2 separate regions of the Homo sapiens genome follow, and region 1 is linked to region 2. The links come from fine-mapping of genetic effects on gene expression. A gene starts in region 2. The other region holds a variant in brackets. All regions are shown on one strand. Distances are from middle to middle.

Evidence for each region.
Region 1: its variant is fine-mapped to the expression of RNF43 in testis (GTEx, PIP 0.97).

The regions. Positions count from the first base shown.
Region 1 is chr17:58,370,001-58,378,000 of GRCh38, reverse strand. RNF43 (ring finger protein 43) reads left to right here. Exons shown (of 10, transcript NM_017763.6): 3 at 6,968-7,090. Among named protein-coding and RNA genes, the nearest start is that of SUPT4H1, 22 kb to the right of the region's middle. The variant A/G (reference allele first, on the strand shown) is at 4,838.
Region 2 is chr17:58,413,465-58,424,391 of GRCh38, reverse strand. It overlaps RNF43 (ring finger protein 43), which reads left to right and starts at 6,858. Exons shown (of 10, transcript NM_017763.6): 1 at 6,858-7,375; 2 at 8,430-9,066. The coding sequence starts at 8,815. It overlaps HSF5 (heat shock transcription factor 5), which reads left to right. Exons shown (of 6, transcript NM_001080439.3): 6 at 1,962-4,225. The coding sequence ends at 2,032.

The DNA.
Region 1 (8,000 bases), 45 kb after region 2:
AGAAGCAACTTCAGGCCAACCTGTTTTTTTCCCACCCCCATATCTGCAGGAGCTTTACTTTATGATGCCGGTGTGTCCTCCTACCTAAGATAAAAGTTCAGGTAATGGAGGTTGTGCAGGAAAGGATGATTGTAAAATCTGAAAAGAGGAAATGGGGAGAATGATGCCTTTGATGCCTGGCCAATGTTCTTGATTACAAAGGCAAAATTGTAGCAAGCAGTAAAGTTACCTGTCCAAGGCCTGGTTGAAGGTCTGTACGTGGAATCAGAGAACTAAGAGACAATTGCAGCAGAGGTCGGTGGTGGGGGCAGGAGGGGGTGGGTGGGTGGGTGGGGAGGAGAGTTCCTGGGAAACAGGAGACAGTGAAGAATTGCTTGCAGAAGCACACACCCAAAGAGGAGGAGATGCCATGGATAAGGGGAGACCAGCATTAAGTTCCAGGCCCAGTTGAGCCCTGAAATGCCCTTTGTGAGGAGGTAATGAGATCACATGGCTTCCTTCATGGGAAGGAGGCAGGCTGAGAACTGGAAGAGCTTGTTCAGTGGGGTTTGGAGGGCTGAGAACAGGAGGGAAGTGACTGTGGATAATGAGCTGTCCCAGAATGCGCCTTGCAGAACACTGGCATTCAGAAGCACTGTTGATTACCAAAGAACGGGGGAGGGGTTCAGAAAAGGCCTTGTCCCTTCCAGGAATAAGAAGGGACTTTATTATAGATGCAGTAATAAAAACAGCTGCCATTAAGTGAGCACTTACTAAGTGTCAGGCTTTTTGCTAGGCACTGATATCCATTATCTCCTGTCTACACAAAGCATTCTTGTTCCCATTCCAAAGACGAGCAATATGAGGCTCAGAAAGATTAACATGCCCAAGGTCACACAGGTAAATGATGGGGTCAGAATCTGAACTCTAGGTCTGTCTTGGGAGGGAGGGGAAAAAATCAGAACAAATAAGTTAAGGAGGACACAGGGAGAATAGACTCAGGAATATGAAATACAACACACACCACCGAAGGACAGTTCACATGTCTTTACACAGGGGGTATAAAATATGTATGCAAAGCTGAATTCTGAGTCAGAATGACCCAACTCGTGCTTGAAAGCAAGTGCCTCTTAATTTGCCCCTCATGGCAGCCTGTGAGACAGTGGTGTCCTAACTCCTGGCCTTTGAGGAAGTCAAATTCACCAAGTTTCCATGAGCCCTCCACAGCCACACCCTTCTCAAATCAGGCAAGCTCATTTCTCTTGACCCTCCCCTGGTGTCACTGAGGGGACAGGTGGCCCACTGTAGAAATCGTGTTTGCATCTTCATGATTAGGAGACCTTGCATTCCAAGGAGACAGATGTATTTGCATCTGTTTTCTCAAGAGCCCGCTTCCTGGCTGAAAATTCCTTGGAGGAAGGGCAAAGACAGCCCCTGTGTTATACCCAGGGAATGCCAATGCTGTCTTTCTTGCTAGGTGCTGAACTGAGTCCTAGTTCAAATGGCTATTATTTGTTTTTAATTTGAGAATATTTGAAAAGCTCTCATTGTAAAAGAGTCAAGCCATACAAAAGTATAATGAGTATGATTGTCATACCACAGATATAATTGTACTAGAAAGATCATGTTACTTTATTTATTTATTTTTTTTATCAAATCTAACACCAAGGTCCTATCCCATTAGCTGCATAGACATTTGTTTTCAAGGGCACTTCTCCTCATAGAGTAGCACAAAAGTCCCAGAGTTTTATGAAAACCAAGATATCCAAGGGACCCCTCTGATATTCATCCATGCTGGCCACCACAGATATGTTTCTTGTCCAAACACAGGCATTCCCTTGAAATCCACGCAGGCACATCATCTCTCCCAGGGGCCAGCCTCCTGGGGTCTAGTACTCAGTCCTTCTCCAGGGACCCACCGCTTCTGGGGCACAGGCTGCAGCTTCCCACTACTCAGCATGGCTCCAGGCCCCTCACACTGGCTCCAGACACCTCCTTCCTGCCCTCCTGGTTCTGAGACTTTGACCCCTCCCTTCACCACAGGCCCTTCTGCCTTCAGGACACTCACACTTCCTCAGTGAGTTCAGTTTTTCTGCAAAAGCCAGGAAGGGAGAACTTTAAACAACATTTGCTTTTGGCAAATGCCCCTAAGGCAAGGAAATAGAAGGTGAAGCCATCTTCTTGGAAGGGAAGGAGGGAAAAGACATGGAACAAAATATAAATAACTGTCGTTCTTTTTTATTCTTCTACAACAGCAAAAAACAAAACTCAAATCTCATGTATTATCTTCTGATCAAAGTATTCAAAGCAAAACACCAAAGTCCCTCTCTACTACCCCCTCTCTAATTCCTCTCCCAGAGCAACCATTATAGGATTTGGGTGTGCTCTGTCTTGTCTTCATAGTTAACTATCGTCAATTATCTGGTTATAGACTTCCAATATTTAATCAACAAATATTGATTGAGTGCCCACAAAGTAACAGGCAGTGGGGGGCAGGCTAGACTCAGTCATCATCTGGAGAAGAGAGGGAAGTAAGCCGACAATTACAATACCGTGGGGTAATGTATGATTAGGGAAATGCCGGACAGAGCAGCAAGTGCCAAAGGTGTTCAGGGAAATGAAACAAGTTATTATTTCTGGAACATAGGTCGCAAGGTGGGAAGAGATATAGGATGGGAATGTTAAGCCATGAGGCAGGGCCCAGACCAGGCAGAGCCTTTTCAGCTATGTTTAAGAGTACAGACTTTATTTCAGGAGCTATGAGGAGCCTTGTAAGAGCTGCAAGTAGAAGAGTAACGTGCTCAAGTTAGCATTTTAGACCACTTTGGCTGCAATATAGAGAACGAATGGGATGAAGTGACCCTAGGGAGTAGGTTATTTCGGTAAATAGGGTTGGCAGTGATGGTGGCCTGTATTACAATAGCGATAGTGAGAATGGAAGAAAGAATAAAATAAGACAAATATTTAGGAGGTAGAATTGTTAGAATTTGGCGATTGATTGGATATTGGTGGTTAGAGTGGGGGTGAAGGAGATGGAGGCTAGGAGGACAGCATCTTGCTTGGGTAATAGATGGATGATGGTTCCAATCCCAGAGACAGCAAACACTGGAGGAGCAGTTTTGGGGATAGAATGAGTTCAGTCTTGAGCATGCTGAGTTTGAGGTGTTCTACTTAAGATTATTAAGGTAGAAACGTCCAGGGTTAGACATAAGGGTCTGGAGCTCAAGAGAAGACCAAACTGTACATATGTAATCACTGACCTCTGTGTGGGCACCGTAGCCATGGGATTGGCTGCTGTCACCCAGAGAAGTCATCAAGAGTGAAAAGAGGGGGCCAGACACGGTGGCTCATGCCTGTAATCCCAGCACTGTAGGAGGCCGAGGCAGGCAGATCATGAGGTCAGGAGTTCAAGACCAACCTGGCCAACATAGTGAAACCCCATCTCTACTAAAAATACAAAAATTAGCCAGACATGGTGGCGGGCGCCTGTAGTCCCAGCTACTTGGGAGGCTGAGGCAGGAGAATTGCTTGAACCCAGGAGGTGGAGGTTGCAGCAAGCCAAGATTGCACCACTGCACTCCAGCCTGGGTGACACAGCGAGACTCTGTCTCAAAAAAAAAAAAAAAAGAAGAGTGAAAAGAGAGGAGGGTCTAAGAATCCCGGGGGTCACCATCAACATTTTAGGGACTTGTATTTGGGTCCTTATGCTTTAGTAAGATAAATTTTCTTAGTAAATGAGTTCGGGGAAGGTATCATGTTTTCAAAATAAAATGTAAATTGTTCTTAAATATTTTTTTAACCTTATCCTACTACTACTTTCCTTTTTTTTTCTAATCTCTACCACTTACTAGCTGTGTAATCTTGGGCATGTTATTTAACCTTTTAGTGCCTCAGTTTCCTCATCTTTAAAATGGGAACAATAACAATCTCTACCTGATAGTGTTGTTATGAGGATGAAAAGAGTTAATATGAAAAAGTGCATAGAACAATCACTGGCCCACAGTATTTACCCAATAAATATAAACTGTACTGTCCCCATCCTGACTATCATTAGCATGGAGATGGATGGAGGGTTGCTGGATGGAGGGTTCATTTGGAGCTCCATGGCTCCGACAATGGAGTCAGGCAGAGTTGAGTTCAAATCTTGTGTGACCTTGATTTCTCTCAGCCTCAAGCTTCTCTTCTTTAAGTGGCTATGATAGGGGTAGTGGGGAGATGGAGATGGTTAATGGGTTTTAAAAAAAAAGTTAAAATGAATGAATAAGGCCTAGTATTTGATAGTACAATGGGGTGACTATAGTCAACAATAATTTTATTGTACATTTAAAAATAACTAAAAGAGTATAATTGAATTGTTTGTAATACAAGGGATTAATGCTTGAGGAGATGGATATTCCATTCTCCATGATGTGATTATTACACATTGCATGCCTATATCAAAACATATCATGTATCCCATAAATATATACACCTACTATGTGCACATAAAAATTAAATAATTGTTTTTAAAAATGGCTATAACACCTACCTTATGGTGAAATAATGTCTAAAAGCTCTGGCACACAAGAGGCCTTTATTGATGTTTAATTTCCTTCCATTCCTTCTTCCATAGTTGTTAATTCGGAACCAGGCAAGTTTGGTGGCTCATACCAGGTTTTTTTTCCCTTCCACCTTGTCAGAGGTATCCTACAATGCAGCACTGAGCTGTAGATGCTGGTTCCCTGTTCAAACCTGGGGAAGAGTGCTGTTTAAATATCTGCAGACACACTGTAGGAACTTCTCCAAAGTGACTTTCCTCTCCCAGGCGACCCTCTGGTCAGTGAGCGGCATCTTGGAGTCATCAGGAGAAGGCTGGACC[A/G]TGTGGGGAGGGTCGAGGAGCAAGCAGAGCAGAACCTTCTGTGGCTGCGATTTGTCCTTCCTCAGGGAAGGCCTCCATCTTCTGCTCTGGTGGAGCAGCTGCCTTCAGATTCCCCACCACACCAGAGTCTCCTCCACAGTCTTCAGAGAAATTGGTCTCCAGTGCAAATCTGTGGTCTCAGCTCTGTGGCCTGACTCTTGCAGATCCTTCCAGCCTTATGTCCTGCCTTCCCTTTCGTGCCAGACCTCACTGCCCACAGTCTACCTCAGCCTCGTGCTAGGCCTCTGTTCCTTGGTGCAGTGGCTTCCTCTGCCAGGAATGTGGCTCCCCAACCCCGCTCCCTTTCATTGGTCCCTGAGGTGAACACATACCTAGTTAGCCTTCCAGGTAGCTCTCCAGTCACCTCTTGTGAAAACTGCTCTGCTTCCCATATGTATTGTTAGCTGCCCCTCTTTGTGCCCTCCCATAGGCCCCTTGCATTGTAACATCACGATGTGTTTGCATGCTTGTCTTTTGAGCTGCTTTAAGGCAAGGAGCCTCTCTTACTCATCATTAGCTCCTCACTGCATTGGACAGAGCCTGACACCAAGGGGGCCTTCCGTGCTGGCAGAACAAAGAAATGAATGGATGCATGGACAGATAGAGAGACTAATGCAGCTTGTTGAGACAGGGGCTACAGCTTCACTGATGTAAGAACAACTCCACCCTCATGCCCCAGCCTTTTTCTTGGGGCAGGGGCACATGATAACCTTTCTCCCACACTAAACCTTGCTCACTACCAGACTAGTAGGCCTTAAACTCTGGGAGCAAGAATGGAACTCCTTCCTATCTCAACACCCCCTGCCCAGAGATTTTGATTCAAAGCAAGGTAGTAGATAGTTATTGAGAACCTACTATGTTCAAGGGACCGCGGTGACACAGTGAGAGGAAATAGCCTGAAAGAGCTTTCAGAAAGTGTGCTTTTAAATCCATCATTGACATTATCTTCATAAACATCTTTATAAATTCAAGATTCTCTGTGGTTCCTCTGATGGTTCTTTCTGGAAGTCCTTCAGACATCAACAGTAGTAGAGGGGGAAGTGTGGGCAGCTCTCTAATAAGAAATCTCTTTCTTGCCAGGATATGTGGGGTTTCTACTATATAGGAGTCCCTGGACCATAGGATTATTCAGGGCCAAATAAGTCATACTTTGTTCTCATTGCACTCTGACATTTTGTTTAGGGAAAATTAGATTCAAATGGGTGTACAAATCGCTGTGAATGAGAAGAGAGAGTAAGGTGGTCTCACCCCTTTGATGAGGAGAGCCTCAGATTTCTGTCAGCACGTTCTCCTTTAGTCATTGTTCAGCACCAGCTGGGCTCAGAGGCACAGGGTCTTGGACAGGATCTGCCCTTAGAGCAGATGGGCTGGGCTGGCTCCACCTCCACGGCATCATTCCTGGGACCAGGGTGAGCTGTCAAAGCTTATGTCTTAGCCAAGCCTCATTGCAAGATAGTCTCACCTCTCTGTCAACACCATGCTTGATCCCAGGATGGGTACAGGGCAGAGGCAAAAAAGGGGCTAGTGAGAGAAGCAAGGTAGCACCGAGTGAGATGACCCAGCCTCCTGAGAAATGGGAATCTACAGGGCAACAGTTGCCTGGGGGCATCCCGAGGAGGCAGGAGGCACCAGCAGCATCCAGCACTGCCCATGGGCATTCTGAAAGCACTGATGCAGGCACACATGGATATTCTCTTAGCCTGGGGCTTGGGGAGCAGGTAGAAGGATCAGGAGGTAGAGAGGCTGGGGCCAGGAGAGGAGCCCTCTGCGTCTGGCCAGTTTAGAGAAGTAGGATTGTTGGAGTTGAAGGTTGTTAGAGTTGCTTTGCAGCAAGCTCTTCATTTAGGTCCCCTCTGGGACACCCTCTCCCTCCTATCTGCCTCCACTACCTGTGTCCTTGGCCCCAGCATCCTGAAGTGACAAACAGTGGTCACTAGCTTACTAAGAGGCAATCCAATCATAAGGCCTACTCTTTTACAGCACCAAGAGACCTGCCTGGTACCTCCCTAGAAAAATGGAGAGGTATATGGCTCTCACAGCTCACTCCTGCTGCCTAAAGCCTCCCTAACCCAAGTCTGTCTCTCTCTGCAGTCCCACCCGCTGTACCTGTGCAATGCCAGTGATGACGACAATCTGGAGCCTGGATTCATCAGCATCGTCAAGCTGGAGAGTCCTCGACGGGCCCCCCGCCCCTGCCTGTCACTGGCTAGCAAGGTAGACTCACACTTCGCCCTACACACACCCGGAGCTTCACCCAGCTCTGGGCTGTGAGAAGACCCTGTGCTCTCTTGTCCCCATGTTTCCTAAGAGTGATGTACCTGATTCCCTTGGGTTTCCCTAACCCATGACTGGTCTGAGAGAAGTGGAAATTCACACCTCTGTTTTTTCTCCTCCGACTAGCACCAGCAGGACTTTTTGACCTTCATCCCAGCATGCTCCCCATCCCACCTCCTTCCCATCACTTGGGAGTTCCTGAGTCCCTTCCCCTGCTCTGCACCAGAGCAAAGAAGGGGTCAATTGAAGGGATTTCCATCTTTTAGAAACATACACTGAGCACTGTGCAAGAACAGCAGAAATAGAAACCATTGCCCCACCCTTAAAAAGTTCACACTTTTCCCCTGAGGTTGCAAACTGGTGGCCCATAAGCTGGGTTTGGCTTGCAGACATGTTGTGTTTAACCCTCACAGCGACTTTTCAATGTGTATATTAATTGCCACATTTAAAAATTAAAAATGTTTATATAAAAGCTGAGATTTTCACTAGGCGTGGTGGCGCACGCCTATAATCCCAGCACTTTGGGAGGCCGAGGTGGGTGGATCACGAGGTCAGGAGATCGAGACCATCCTGGCTAACACAGTGAAACCCCGTCTCTACTAAAAATACAAAAAATTAGCCAGGCGTGGTGGCACATGCCTGTAATCCCAGCTACTCAGGAGGCTGAGGCAGGAGAATGGTGTGAACCCAGGAGGTGGAGCTTGCAGTGAGCCGAGATCGTGCCACTGCACTCCAGCCTGGGTGACAGAGCGGGACTTTGTCTCAAAAAAAAAAAAAAAAAAAAAAAAAACTCAGATTTTCAGCTTCTTTAGAAGAAACCTGCAAAGCACATTGCTGCAGGCCATGGTTT
Region 2 (10,927 bases):
ATCTGCCTGCCTCGGCCTCCCAAACTGCTAGGATTACAGGCATGAGTCACCACTCCTGGTCCCGCTTTATTCCTTTTTAAGGCTAAATAACATTCCGTTATATGTGTATACCACATTTTGTTTATCCATTCATCTGTTGATGGATACTAGGATTTCTTCTCCCTTTTGCCTATTGTGAATAATACTGCTGATTATACTGCTGTGATCATGGGAGTATGAGAAACTCATTTTAAGTGATAAACTGATAAACTCTCCTTCCACAAAATACTTATGTGGATAAATTACTTGTTCTATATGGCTAGGTTGTAGTTCACCAGATGAGTAAGCACCTATCCCTGGTGACTAGTCTGTCTTTTACAAAATATGACAAAAATTAGGTACTATTTCAAATGCTTTCTAGATTTTCTACCAAGTGGTAGTAGAATTCCATTTTATTTGAATCAGCTATCCTGCTCGGGCTGTGGATCAATCCTGTAGAGGCTGTGTTCCAAAAATGTAGCAACAAAAGTCTTTGTATGTTGAGAATGAAATAAAGGGTTTGTGCTGTATACTTTAACTCACAAATGCTAAAGCAAAGTTGTAAACTTCAAAACCAACCTAAAAATGCTCCCTGGGCCGGGCGCAGTGGCTCACGCCTGTAATCCTAGCACTTTGGGAGGCTGAGGCGGGCAGATCACGAGGTCAGGAGTTTGAGACCAGTCTGGCCAACATAGTGAAACCCCATCTCTACTAAATATATAAAAAATTAGCCAGGTATGGTGGTGTGCGCCTGTAATCCCAGCTACTTGGGAGGCTGAGGCAGGAGAATCGCATGAACCCGGGAGGCGGAGTTTGCTATGAGCTGAGATTGCACTCCAGCGCGGGTGACAGTGTGAGACTCTGTCTCAAAAAAAAAAAAAAAAAAAAAAGCTCCCTGGTCATGTTGCTCTAGAAGTTGTAAGCACATTAGCTTGAAGCTAGAAGCCACTTTAAGATCCTTTTATTGCTGCCTGTGTTCCTCTATAGACGTTTTAGCTCAACTTCTACACATGGTCTTAGCTTTTTTGTATTACAGAACCTAGTACCTAATTTGCATTTTTACTTCTTTCATTCTTAATGAACCACTGTGTGAGGACATGCTTTCTTTTTTATGGACAGTTCAGCTAGGTGTTTTTACAAGAATTCAGCTGTGTTAGTCAATAAGTGGGAATTTTATAGAGTCAATCAACTTTGGAAAAATGGTGATTACTTATTTTAACATTGTTTTTTCTGAAGGCATTGCCTTTTCATGTTCCCACAACCCACCCACCTACTCTTACAGCATGAAGGAAATGAATTTTTATTTGTATGTGTATATTCACTTTGATCCCTTTGACACTTTTCCTTACTTTTTCACTTACAATAAAAGGCAATTGAAGGCCAGGCACCGTGGCTCACGCCTGTCATCCCAGCACTTTGGGAGGCCAAGGTGTGTGGATCACTTGAGGTTAGGAGTTCGAGACCAGCCTGGCCAACATGCTGAAACCCCGTCTCCACTAAAAATATAAAAATTAGCCGTGCGTGGTGGTGCATGCCTGTAATCCTAGCTACTTGGGAGGCTGAGGCAGGATAATCAGTTGAACCCAGGAGGCAGAGGTTGCAGCGAGCCGAGATTGTGCCGCCGTACTCCAGCCTGGACGATAAGAGCAAAACTCCGTCTCAAAAAAAAAAAAAAAAAAGGCAACTGAGGTGAAAAGAGTCTTGGCTATACTACTGAAAAGGAGGGACACTAAAATTTGTTGGTCTCTTTGGGTTACAACTGGGCTGCATCAGTGTGCTTTAGAGTTACAGGAATATCCCGAAATTGAGAATCTGATGGGACTATACAATTTTAGAGCCAGTTCTACAGGTGAGACATAGACAACTTGTTCTGCTTGTCTGAAAACTTGTCTATAGAACTCTACAGAGAGGCTAAGAGGGAGTAAACTATCCTTTCTTTCTAGATCTTCATCTGCTGGTGGACGTGGCCTGCAAGCAGGAGCGCTTTCCAAAGGAGGAAGAATTAAAAGAGTGAGGAATGGATGACAAATGTGACATTGTGCACTAGCTGTAGCTGGAGGCAGACTAGCCTTGCACATGACAAACTGTTGGGATTTTTTCAGTTCTGTTAAGGAAAAAAAAGTATTTTTTGTTTCGTTAATTGAGAATTTTGTTAATTGAGAATTGGGAATTTGTATGTACTACAGTGGTTCAGTTCAGATTATCTGCCTTGACAAACTACTGAACATCTAGCAGCCACGTTTTTTGGCTGCCCAGATCCCTTTTAAATGAAAAGTTCTGACCTTCTGTTATAGTCAAGGAGCATCTAAAAACTGCTCCATCTATGGTACTAAGAATAATCTGTGTGTGTGCTGATTTGTTGTCTTGCCACTCAAACTGTAGTCAGCACAACTTTAGTGGGGAATTCAGTCTCTCTGATTCAAGTCACAGTGTGATCCTTTTAGAGGAGATTGTGTGAGAAACAAAGGCATGTGAGGTCACCAGCATCACAGGTCTAAATGCATCAGGAATTCCAGGGAAGAAACTCTGGAGAAGAGCTAATTTTCTAAGTGATTAACCAGGAAATTCTCTTACTTCCTAACCCAGCATTCTGTTTTAAGAGCAAGGCATCCGGACTTGGACCATCTATCACACTTAACAGCCCCTGATTCTTTTATATTAATGGAAGCATTCTTCTATTTTCATATCTTTCTTTAATTTTAATGATACATTATCATAAATGGTAAAAAGATTTTATTAATATATCACTTATTTAAATGTCTTTAAAGAAAGTATTTAACTTGTTTAATATAATTGTATTTATAAATGCTGATAGATTTAAAGGTTTTAAAGTTTTATATTTTTATTATTGCAGGATAGAAGGATAAAGGATGCATGTGTAGTATTTTTATTTTGAAAGGAAAATGTACAATGTGTGAACAAAAACATTAAGAGATTTAATATACTATTTTCTTATTTTAGATTTTTACATTCAATAAGTATAAATTCTCATCTATATAAGGTATTGTGTGCAAATTTGGGAAAAAACTGATTAGCAGCCATTTAGTAGAAGCTATGCCTCTGATTTTTAAAGAATGGTTTCAATCTGGTTTAAGCTTCTGAGAGAATTTTGGATAATGGGATAGATGGTAACATTTTTTTCTTATCCCTGTTACAGGATTCTAGATTTGTGCAGTAGGATTGTGGGACTGTGTTTTAGGAGAGAAGGATGTCTTGGATGTCCAGTTTCTGTGGTTAATCCCTTACTTGCTTATCCAGTGACAGCAAGAAACTTTCTGATTTAAAGTCTTTCAATTGACCAAAACTTTCTTATTGGATTCTGTTTCAGTTCTCCTATTAAGCACTGCAGAAACGAAAGGAAAGCCTAGGAATATGAAACTAATTAAAAAGGCACTTGGTGATATGACATAGTACTATGCTAGCCGTTGTGGATGTAACAGTTCATTTCTTATACTGCATTGTGCCTTCCCAATGATGTCAAACCCTAGAAATATTACAGAGATCTACTTTTCTGGAAAAGGGTGAGCTCTGTATTGATCTGCAGTGACTCTGTTTAGATATTAAAGTAGGTTCTGAAAAGCGACCTGTGTGGTCCCTCTGATTAGACTAGTTAATGTCTATGTGATGGGCATTTATTTATCTTTATTAGCAAGGTTTAAAAGAGCAAATTATCAAGACACCTATATCTTTTGGCCAGACTATATAATATTTTGTCAGAGTATGTGAAGAGGAGACCCAATTTCCAAATGAAGGAACTTTGCTTTTTCTCTGTCATGTTGAAGAGCTAATATACTGTGTAGATTTTCCCCTAAATATGGCTTTCTTAGCTTTATAGATGTTGAGATAATATCTTTTGAGGAACACATGTCAAGCAGGAACCTTGGCATAGATTTGGTTTCAGTTGTTTTAAGGCTTAATTAATGAAATGCCTTAATCAGCTTTCCAAACATTTTTATATATGAATACAGCAGACCAAGGAGCTGGATCTCCTGCTATCCTTACACGCCTTGTATCTATCAACTAAAGCTGTCATTAATGACTTGGGCAAAATGGCAAGAGGTATAATAAAGTCTTCCTGTGAATTAGCCAGTAGGGTCTGACACAACTAGTCAACTAACAAGGTTCCTGACTAGTACCTCAGTATTTCAGCACCTTAAGCACTGATAAATTTCAATCAGTCAACAATAAAGTGAGTGTTCCAACTAGACTTGTTGTCTTGCTTGTTCTTACTGTTTGGTGATTAATAGAAAATTCAATAATTATGACAGTTAATAGTATAATTCAAATGAGATTTACTTTATTTTTCAAATAATCTGAATTTTAAAAGTTTTTTTTCATTTGTACTTGAATAGCAATGGAATTTTTTAAATGCCGTTAGGGATAAGGACAATTCTTAGACATGTTTTACAGAAACCTACATTTTTGGAAAAGGATGAATGATCTTTGATAAATTTAATCAATCCAGAGGTGAAAGTAGATCCTGAAGGATGATCTATCTCATGTATAAGACTAGCTAGTAGATGTCATTGAGACTTAGGCATTTCATTACAATAGTGATGGCATCTTTATGACATCTCTAGGAAAATGTAGTAGTATATCAACCCTAGAGGGTAACTCCAAAACTTTGAAGCTGAAGAATAATTGCTCTTGCAATTCTGGTGATCTAAAACAGTGAACTAAGCTACATAGAGCTGTTTGGTTTGATCTTGAGTTTCTCCAAGTCTCCAGGTTCATGATGCATATCATCATCATTTCCAAATCTCAGAGTTTCCTCAAGAGAGGGCAACCACATTTGTAACTGTCTTCTTTCTGTCAATTAAGTGTGTGTATTAATTACTAGGGCTAGGTCTTTTCATTCCTTTGCACGTTTTAAGCAGGAATAGATGAGGCAAAGCCCATTTGTAGGTTATTTTTTAGTTTAACTATGTTAAATTAAACTATGTTGGTCAGGCTGGTCTCAAATTCCCGACCTCGTGATCCACCCACCTTGGTCAACCAAAGTGCTGGGATTATAGGCGTGAGTCACCACGCCTGGCCCAACAAAAATTTTTTTTAAATTTGCAGGGTGTTGGCCAGGCGCAGTGGCTCACGCCTGTAATCCCAGCACTTTGGGAGACCGAGGCGGGTGGATCACAAGGTCAGGAGATGGAGACCATCCTGGCTAACACGGTGAAACCCCGTCTCTACTAAAAATACAAAAAATTAGCTGGGCGTGGTGGCGGGCGCCTGTAATCCCAGCTACTCGGGAGGCTGAGGCAGGAGAATGGCATGAACCGGGAGGCGGAGCTTGCAGTGAGCCGAGATAGCGCCACTGCACTCCAGCCTGGGCAACAGAGCGGGACTCCGTCTCAAAAAAAAAAAAAAAAAAATTTGCAGGGTGTGGTGGGACGCACCTGTGATCCCAGCTACTCTGGAGGCTGAGGTGGGAGGCCATGAAGGTCAAGGCTGCAGTGAGCCATGATGGCACAACTGTGCTCCAGCGTGGGTAACACAAGACCCTGTCTCAAACAACAAAAATAAACAAAAAATTTATTTTCGAATTTGTCTTTGATCTAGGTTAGTTATTAGATCTGAAATTCTGAAACTACTGTCATAAACCTTATCTACAGGGGAAACAATGTTGAAGGTCAATAGGCTACTCATCCTTTTTGCTTTCAGAGGCATTATGTCATTTAATCTTTACAACAGACCTATCGTAATTATTATCATCAGCATTTTACAGATGATCAGAGATTCGTTTTTACATGAGGTAAGAAACACATAAAATTTACTATCATAACCATTTTTAAGTGTACAGTTCACTAGATTTAACTATATCCACATTGTTGTTCATTTGTATAATTTTGAAAGTTTATGGCAGCGGTTCAGAAATAAAATGTCTCACCACAGTCAAATATAATCTGGTAATTTGAAACTTCAAATGTTATAAATGTATTAGAAACTGTTGTATTATTTCTAATGGCAGGGTAGTAATAAGGATTATAGTTCATGAATGTGGTAATTAGCCAGAAATTCATTTTCTTTTTGCCTATGTTCTTCTCATTAATCATATTTTACCCTTTGGCTTGTATTTATGACATGGACTTATTTGGAGTCTTACATTGAAGGCATAGGTCTGATCCATAGTATTATTTCACCTCCCAAAGATTGAAAAGAAAATAACAGTTGGATTCCAGACATCTGACATCAACCTGATTTGAAAGTTCCATATAGGCACAGTTTAGACAGAGCTACTGAATTTAAATTAGTAAGAGCTGAAGAAAAGCTAAGCATAAAATGGACAGAGCCCTTCCCAGGGTAGCAGACATAAGCAGCAATAAATCAGTAAGTACTAAAACACAGGATCACTTTATTCTGGCTTTCTGCCATTTATAGACACTCAAACTTGGAATGAGCAGAAATCCTTTTGAACTTATATTTGCAAAACCTTGTGTCCATTCTTTTATCTTCCGGATTACCTTTATTTTTTTCTGTTTATTTCCTCATACCATCATCTATGCTCTGTTGGGTGCAGAGTCTGCTTAGATATCTTTGAGTGGCCCTGATTTGCATGTGGTAGCTTGCTTACCCAGAGAAAGGTACTCGGGATCGAATTGGATGCAGTTTAGCTGTGGCTCAGTAGAGGGAGTAGAGGAGCTGAGGGAGGGGGGAGAGCGAAAGAACGGGTCTGGTTAAGTAAGTGTTGTGTGTGAGCACCAGGAGGAGGGGGGCAGGGTGGGGAGTGGTTGCCTCTAGCAGCTCCACCCTCACTTTGTCAGCAGGTAGAGAGCGTGATTGCAGTCCCAGGGGAGGGAGTCAGAGCTAGAACACCAATTACAAACCACAGGCTTCCTGCTCTAGGGAGTTGATCCAGAATTGTCTTTCTGAAAGGAAGCACTCGGAATCCTTCCGAACTTTCCAAGTCCATCCATGATTCAGAGATACTGCCTTCTCTCTCTCTGGGATTTTATGTGTTTCTGATAGTGAATTGTTGATGTATTTGCTACTTTGCTTCTTTTCTCTTTCAAGACTTGATCATTTTATATGCTGTTTGGAGAAAAAAAGAACTTTTGTTAGCAAGGAGGTTTCAGAAATGATTTTGGATTTTCTGTAAGTGTTTAATTTAGTTCTAGGGGACAGCATCTCTCATCCCGGAGTAAATTTCTGCCTTTGACCTGCATGGATTATTTTTTCAGGCTGCGGAATTTCTCGGCACCTACCTGTAGTATGGGGCACTTGGTTTGGTTGCAGAGTAAGAAGGTGGAAGAATGAGCTGTACTTGGTTAAGCAGTTGAAACCTTTTTTGAGCAGGATCTGTAAAAGCATAATTGAATTTGTTTCACCCCCGTGGATTCCAGTGGGCCCGACAGCGCAACAGGTTTGCAGATTTCTTTTGAAATTCCTTTTTCCCCCCTCCCTCTGCCTCAGCAAAAGAAAAGAATCCATATAACAGGTTCATGTTCAATTGCTTGGCTTTTCAGCACTTATTCTGAAGACTTTATAATATTTTTAAACTTGACCTTGGAACACAGAGGGCTTTGTGGGTGAGGTGTATTTATATTTACTTAAGGGTGCACATTTTAAAAATCTTATTCTGTGTTTGTACAAAGACGCAAATTTTCATAGTGCCTAGAAATAGCACAGATCTATTCTACTCAAGATTATTTGTATTTTTTCAGGGTATTCTACCTAGAGCCTGTGGTTAATCGCCTCCCTGCTCCCCCTACCTTTTATTCCCTACCCCCTCAGGGAATTTGGATACATGTGAGGAATAGTCCTTTGTTTTTCTTATGAACCTAGAAAATTACAGATCATAAAATCTGGATATTAAAGTAGTTTCCAAAAGCATCTCATGGGAAATCAAAGTGCTCGGCATTTCCGAGCTGGAGAATAAAATCAAGAATCCTTAAGAGAGAAAAGAAAATGGAGATGGAAATATGAATTTTAACTGGGAAAAATAATTGGAAAGCTAACCTTTTCAAATACTCTAATTATGAAAGTTGGAAAAGGTTGTGATGCTCAGGATTATCCTGTAATGTGTGAAGATACATAAATTAGCACCTAATTTATAGGCAAATTTTGGTAAAACACAAAAAATTATGGTATGTCTAAGTTCATGAAAAGTATGTAAATGCAGTGGGCCTAGAAACCTGGCCACACTGAAATACAGTTTAATGTGGAAACTTTTCTAAATACATATTGTAGCATCTTTGGACATCAACGTGTGGCCTGAAATTTTTATTATTGTTCCCTCTTCTCCTCCATTAAAAAAAAAATCTCCTTGTGGTATTTAGTCATTTACCATTAACACATATTATGGCTTAAAAAGGGCCATCCCTTCCTTTTCTGAGCTGGAGTTCTTCACGCTCACCTTTGATGCATGGCCTTAGCTGTTTACTTTGCCTTGTTTTGTTCATGAACATTGGGTTTAGTGCCTGGCAACTTGATGCATATGGAAGAGCAATGCCAAGTGATCTGACATAATACAAATTCACGAAGTGACATTCAATCACAAGCAAAGTTGGAAATTCCAAAGAGAAGTGGTGAGATCTTTACTAGTCACAGTGAAGATGGGAGAAAATGACATACCTGCAGCAGATGTGGGCTGAAAATATCCTCTTCTCTGCCCAATCAGGAATGCTACCTGTTTTTGGGAATAAACTTTAGAGAAAGGAAGGGCCAAAACTACGACTTGGCTTTCTGAAACGGAAGCATAAATGTTCTTTTCCTCCATTTGTCTGGATCTGAGAACCTGCATTTGGTATTAGCTAGTGGAAGCAGTATGTATGGTTGAAGTGCATTGCTGCAGCTGGTAGCATGAGTGGTGGCCACCAGCTGCAGCTGGCTGCCCTCTGGCCCTGGCTGCTGATGGCTACCCTGCAGGCAGGCTTTGGACGCACAGGACTGGTACTGGCAGCAGCGGTGGAGTCTGAAAGATCAGCAGAACAGAAAGCTATTATCAGAGTGATCCCCTTGAAAATGGACCCCACAGGAAAACTGAATCTCACTTTGGAAGGTGTGTTTGCTGGTGTTGCTGAAATAACTCCAGCAGAAGGAAAATTAATGCAGGCAAGTATAACTTTATTATATTTCACTTTCCATCTGTTTGAAATATGTCTTTCTTCTTTTGTCTCCCAAATGAAATACCATACACGGGCTTCTACTGCTTAGCTTTCTATTTCATAGAAAGAGTAGATACTGCCTTATTGGCATTCTAAATTTAGCAAATTATTATTTTATACTCTGGAGGAAATACATAAATCCTATATTTTAGAAGATTATCTGCTTATTTTAAACTGGTGTTGCATAACTACTTAGATAGACATAATAATACCTTTTTTTCAAGTGATATATTCTGGGCACTAATTTTTGATAGATGAAATATATGAGCTTATATTTAATTGATGCGAGGATTGTATTTTACATCCTGTTTAAATTGAAGTAAGCACTAAGAAGGTTGATTTTAATGGTCAGCAGCACCTGAAATTCTGGAATGCCCTTGGAGCATATTTGATTACTGTGTCACTTAAAATTCAGTCAAGCTTGAATGCTATGGCTGGCCTTACACCACGTGTGGCACCCTATTGCTAACCCCAAAATGGAGAGGACTGGATTACAAAATGGACACAAGGTGTAAACCTGCCTCCTGATCACTTTGGCCTTGTCCACACATAATTTTATCATTTTCAGGAATTTAAATTTAACATGTTTTTTACTGATCCGCCAAGTTTTTCAGACATAGTTTCTTAGGCTTTCAGGCTGTGAATTTTGCCTGTAAGTCATTCATACATGGCCTATTCTTTATGTGGTGAATTTATGAAATGACTGGGGGCACAGCATTTCATAGACCAATTGCTCATTCCCCATAGTAAAGACAGAGCCTAGAGGGCTATACCTTTTTAATGGGCATTCCATTGTCTTACTCCATAAAATGATGTTGCTTATTGATTGAAATTTATCATGTAAAAGAACACTTCTTGCTGTAGCTACTGGACACAGGTTAAAATATTCTTAAGTGTGATCCATCTTAGCATCCAAACTCAAATTTTAATTTTGTGGTATGAACAGACTATGAACAGAACCAATTTATTGTATGAATTTTAATTTTTGTCTACTTAAAGAAGATAGGAAAATTTAACAGATTATAGAACTTATTCCTAAACATGTATTCTTTAATATATGGTTTAGTGGTTATTCATTATCACTTCTTAGGCAATATTTTGAAGCTGGGATAAATGAAGTGAAGGAGAATTAGGTGAAAATGGAAGGCTTTGCTATTTAGAAAAATAGGAAAGAAGAGTATATCTGGAAAAATGGCATAAGATTTTTTTGAATAAGATAATTTGGATTCTAAAATGGAATTAGGAATACTTAAAAGCTGAACTCATAAATCATCTTGAATACTATGGCAATTGGAAAGGAAACTTCCTTCCTGGCCTTGCCTAGTTAATACCCTGAAGCATGAATTGTGTGCTCCATTTTAGGACCGTAAGTAATTTTGCTAGTCATATTTTGATATCACTGAAGTTTTTGAGAGCCATACGTGCCTTATTGATAACCTGTGATAGCATGTTCAGTGGGCTAATTATGTGTTCCATAAAATAATGTATTCTTTTAAGTTTTAATCTTATTATCATAAAGCTCTACATAAAGTTTGTGTTTTCATAAAGGAAAAAGTAAACAAACAGCACCAGTTGGCATTCTCTTTGCCATTCATTATTTTATCAATCTTTATCATGTCTTCTATTGTTCTATCGTTTTTCTCACTCTGGCAAATCTTACCAATCTATTTTGTTTTTTAAACTATTAACTTTGATCCTATCATTATACATTAAGTATTGCTTTTACTTTGTGAAGAGGGAATTTCATCATAACTTAGCAAAGACTTTCAGCCTTTACAGTGGATAGTTTTATGTCATTGGCAATTTTT